Linked DNA regions of Homo sapiens: region 1 is linked to region 2. Evidence: fine-mapped expression QTL. A gene starts in region 2. The other region holds a variant in brackets. All regions are shown on one strand. Distances are from middle to middle.

Evidence for each region. PIP is the estimated chance that this variant, and not a neighbour inherited with it, causes the effect.
Region 1: its variant is fine-mapped to the expression of SGCG in adrenal gland (GTEx, PIP 0.95).

What each region holds. Positions count from the first base shown.
Region 1 is chr13:23,154,358-23,157,395 of GRCh38, forward strand. The region is part of intron 1 of LOC124903134 (a long non-coding RNA gene); the gene reads right to left. Among named protein-coding and RNA genes, the nearest start is that of LINC00362, 15 kb to the right of the region's middle. The variant T/C (reference allele first, on the strand shown) is at 1,789.
Region 2 is chr13:23,179,836-23,182,335 of GRCh38, forward strand. SGCG (sarcoglycan gamma) reads left to right here and starts at 1,144. Exons shown (of 8, transcript NM_000231.3): 1 at 1,144-1,240.

The sequences.
Region 1 (3,038 bases), 25 kb before region 2:
TAGTATTACACCAGTTCTTAGCCTTTACTAATTGTTAGCTGATTCCTCTAATATTTTTGACAACATCTGGAGCATAAACTGTTCCATAATTTAATTTAATTACAGCCCAGTCCCCTTTTCATGGGTAGTCTTTGAGACCTCCTACAAGTCTAGGAGGACTCTTTTTTGCGACTTTTTTCCTGATGGTCTCTTAATTTTCTAGCTGGTCTACCATTTAGCTTTTTGTTATCATAAAGCTAGCAGTCTTCTCTTAATTGCTTACTGCCAAGATCTCCATTGTTTTTCATAGTGAACTTCTCCCCCATTCTGTTTCAAATAAAATCAGCTATGAAGTCCTCTATTCTTAAATCCTCCCTCTCGCCCTAGGAAGAAACTTTGTTCCACTGCTCCAGAGCTGGGGGTGGGGACAACAGGCTGCTTCTCTCAGAGTGACATCCCTGCTTCGTGAGCAGGACACTGAGTGGGGTTAGTAGCCCTTGGTCTTTTCAGCTTGCCTCTCCCAATATGGAACCTCCGCCCCATGTGTGGGCTAAGGCAGGGGTAGTAGTTGTCCAGTATTCTTCACCTGACACAATTTGAATAGAACTTCTACCTTACGGTGGTGGCTGGGTAGCAGGTGGCTGGGTAAAGCCCCAGTCCTTTCATCCACACTTGACTAGAATGGAGTTTACATACATGCTTTGGTGGACTAGGTGTGAGAATGATGGAGGCCAACCACCTCTGGAAAAAAACAAAATCCTGGACTGGTAACTGGGGTAGAGGGAGTCTATCTTCTTGGCCACACCTACCAAGAGTACAGCTTCCATCACACTGAGTTGGGGGTGGGGACTGAGTGGGTAGTGGTTCAAATGCCACAAACTCACACTGTTTTTACCAATATTTGTTAGATTTTAGAAATAAATATTTCTCCATTTGCTGTATGCCCTTAGGATGATTCCAGAGGCTTTAGTTAGTTTTAAAAAACAACAACAACAATTTTCAGTAACCAAAACAGCATGGTACTGATATAAAAGTAGATACATATACCAATGGACCAGAACAGAAATCACAGAAACAGGCCAGGCGCGGTGGCTCACGCCTGTAATACCAGCACTTTGGGAGGCCAAGGCGGGAGGATCACGAAGTCAGATCGAGACCATCCTGGCTAACTTGGTGAAACCCCGTCTCTATTAAAAAATACAAAAAATTAGCCGGGTGTGGTAGCAGGTGCCTGTAGTCCCAGCTACTCGGCTGAGGCAGGAGAGTGGTGTGAACCCGGGAGGCGGAGCTTGCAGTGAGCCGAGAATACGCCACTGCACTCCAGCCTGGACTGAATGAGGCTCCATCAAAAAAAGAAAACAGAAATCACAGAATAAAACCAAATATTTATAACAAACTATTATTCAACAAAGCATACAAAAACATAAATTGGGGACGGCATACCATATTCAATAAATGGTGTTGGGAAAACTGGATAGCCACATGTGGAAGAATGAAACTGGATCTCTTTCACCAACTACAAAAATCAACTCAAGGTGGATCAAAGACTTAAATCTAAGACCTGAAACCATTACAATTCTAGAAGAAAACTCAGGAAAAAACTCTTCTGGACATGGCTCTAGGGAAAGAATTTATGACTAATACCCTAAAAGCAAATGCAGCAAAACCAAAAATAAATACATGGGCCTAATTAAAGTAAAAAGGTTCTGCACCACAAAAGAAATAATCATCAGAGTAAACACACAACCCACAAAGTGGGAGAAAATATTTGCAAATTATGCAACTGACAAAGGATATTAGTCCAGAATC[T/C]ATGAGGAACTGAAACTAATCAAAAAGGAAAAAAAAGGCCAGGTGCGGTGGCTCACGCCTGTAATCCCAGCACTTTGGGAGGCCGAGGCAGGCAGATCACGAGGTCAGGAGATCGAGATCATCCCGGCTAACACGGTGAAACCCCGTCTCTACTAAAAATACAAAAAATTAGCTGGGGGCGGTGGCGGGCGCCTGTAGTCCCAGCTACTCGTGAGGCTGAGGCTGGAGAATGGCGTGAACCCGGGAGGCGGAGCTTGCAGTGAGCCGAAATAGCGCCACTGCACTCCAGCCTGGGCGAAAGAGCGAGAATGCCGTCTAAAAAAAAAAAAAAAAAAACCCATGTAAAAGTGGGAAAATGACATGAATAGACATTTCTCAAAAGAAAAATGTACAAATGGCCAAAAACACGAAAAAATGCTCAACATCACTAATCATCAGGGAATTGCAAATTACAACCACAATGAAATACCACCTTACCACAGCCAGCGTAGGTATTATTAAAACTCAAAAAGCAACAGATGTTGGTGTGGATGTAGTGAAAAGGGAACGCTTATACACTGCTGGTGGGAATGTAAATTATTGTAACCTCTTTGGAAAACAGTATGGTGATTTCTCAAAGAACTAAAAGTAGATCTACCATTCAATCCAGCAATCCCATTACTAGGTATCTACTCCAAAGGAAAAGAAGTCACCATATCAAAGAGACACTTGCACGCATATGCTTATTGCAGCACAATTCACAATTGCAAAGATATGGAACTAACATAAGTACCCATCAACTGATGAGTGGATAAAGAAAATGTGGTACATATATGCCATGGAATACTACTCATCCACAAAAAAGAATAAAATGTCTTTTGCAGCAACTTGGATGGAGCTGGAGGCCATTATTTTAAGTGAAATCACTCAGGAATGAAAAAGCAAATACCGTATATTCTCACTCATAAGTGGGAGCTAAGCTATGGGTGCACAAAGGCATGCAGAGTGGTAGAATGGACATTGGAGACTCAGAAGCCAGAAAATGGGCAAGGGATAAAAAACTACATATTGTGTACAATGTATACGGCTCGGTGATGGGTGCACTAAAACCTCTGACTTCACCACTCTACAATTCATCCACATAACTATTGAAATTTAAAAATTACATCATCAGAGGCTGCGGCAGGAGAATGGCGTGAACCCAGGAGGCAGAGCTTGCAGTGAGCCAAGATCGCGCCACTGCACTCCAGCCTGGGCGACAGAGTGAGACT
Region 2 (2,500 bases):
GAATGAAGCATATGCATTGTTATTGCATTGCTCCTTTTTTTCTTCATTTTTTATTTCAGGTTCGAGGGGTACATGTGCAGGTTTGTTACACAGATAAATTGCATATCACCAGGATTTGATGTACAAATAATTTCATCGCCCAGGTAGTAAGCCCAGTACCCGATAGACAGTTTTCCGAACCCCACCTTTCTCCCTCCCTCCTTCCTCAAGCAGGCCCCAGTATCTGATTGTTCCCATCTCTGTGTGCATGTATACTAAGGCACTGCTTCTTATATTCAAGGTTTAGTACTAAAATGCAAATATGAAGTATATAATTTAGTAAGTTTTAATCCTGCTGCAAACCAGGTCACATAAAAATAATGCAAAATAAAATATTAAAATTATTCAGAAGTTCGATATTTATTCTGTTGTCTTTACACCTTATAAAATGGAATGACCTAATTACTCTTAAATAAACATAAAGACAATTTAAGGTCACATTTGTTACATTCACATAATTTGTTAAACACAATAGAAATGTTAGTTTACTAGAAAAGAACTGTCATAATTTTAACATGCAGAGTTTGTTTACCTTCTATTATGGTGATCTTTGTTTAAGATTTTCTCCTCAGATGTTAAAAGTTTTTCACTTAAAGAGGCTTAGGGAAAGTGATTTTTAAAGAGTCACTGTTACATGGTAATATGCCGTTCATTTGGATGAGACTAGTATATAGGTAATAGTCACAAGTTCTAACTTGCATGTTAATTTGAAGAGATTTTTCGTAAAATTTTATCAACATTAGTTTCTAATGGAAACCAGTCTTAGAAGTTTTCTGCTGTTTGTTTGAGGTAAAGTTTTTTTAAGAAAGTTATAATTACATTAAACTATCATGCTTTAGGGTTTAAATGTTGGAAAGTTGGTTTTGTAAGAAGAAGAGTTTGGTTTCTTGTTTGTTTGTTTGTTTTGGTTTGTTTTTGGCATGCGAAGAGCTGTGTCCTGGAATTGGTGCCCAAAAAATTTTAAGTGTGGTATGAACTGTTTATGTCACTGAGTAAAATTAGACACGTCTGTTGCTAATGTGAGGGGATGAAACATGAGACAGGGCGAAACTCGTGAGAGCCCTTTCTCCAGGGACAGTTGCTGAAGCTTCATCCTTTGCTCTCATTCTGTAAGTCATAGAAAAGTTTGAAACATTCTGTCTGTGGTAGAGCTCGGGCCAGCTGTAGTTCATTCGCCAGTGTGCTTTTCTTAATATCTAAGGTAAGTGCTCAGTTTTAACTTAGATTTTATATCAGTACAAAGTACTACCTAAAAACCAAACGCTTAAGAGGTTTCTTAATATTCTTTCTTCTTTGGTGGCATAATAATAAATTTAAAATAATGTTGAATAAATTGGTGTATCACAACATAATGACATATCAAGTATCAATGAAATTCTCATTTCAACTAAGTTATTCTGACTACAAATATGCTACATATTTTTAGCATAATCCTATATTTCTAACATTTTTAATTTGTAGAATGCCAAAGGTAGCATTTCTGTATTATTGGGCATTGAATTGGATCCTGTAGTTAATTTAAACAAAGTATTATCTTTAAGATCACCTACTTCTAATTCTGCTCTTAAACTTTAGTGGTAGAATTACATTTGCTTTAGATTTTCTTGATAGTTTTGTTATAGACACTAAGAAATAAACTAAAATGAATGACAACAAAAGTCCAGTGGTTTTATAAGTTGGAAATAAACAAAACAAGAGCAAAATAGCAACCTGACTCCTTCACTATTTTTGGAGTGAAAAGGGAAGAATGTTTCTTTCCCTAAATCTGGAAAATATAAAATACTGCTCAAAATATGTATGAAAAAATAAACATAAGTGGGGTAAAAGTACACATGTGCTAATGCTTCAGCTTACTGAAGTTATGAGTTCTTTCTTTGCGTTTTCTAAATTAATACATGACAACTAGCAAACACAATTTTTTTAAAGGAAGGATTAGAAAAAAATAATACGGAAAAATATAACTCAGCTGACTGAAAGATTTGCCAGCAGACCAGTACAAAAACGAACTACGGAATACACCGTTTGTTTTTTGCTTATTTTCTTGCAAACATTTTGTAGGTACAAAAAGGCACCTTTGTGGAATTTAAAAAGTAATGCTACAAGTTGGGGTTCGTTTTATAGGTTCTAGGATTCATTTCAGATTGTCTTTCAAAGACAAATGAAAAGTAGCATTTCAATGTAGTTAGATATAGCATTCCAAAGACTAACAAATTCAGGTGTCCAAAAGATATCAGCTAAGCTTGCAGTTAAAATGCGGAAAATGAAATTGTTCCATATTGTCCTTTAAAAAATGTACTTGCTAGTCATTAAACTAAGTTGTTATTAAATTGCATTAAAAATTAAATGATAGTTGTAAATTATAGTGGGTTCCCAATGTGTTCAGTTTTGCATAACTTATAGGGCCTGAGGATCTCCCTCCACTCCCTAATCTGTGGCTCATCACAGCGCTTGTGTCTTCTCA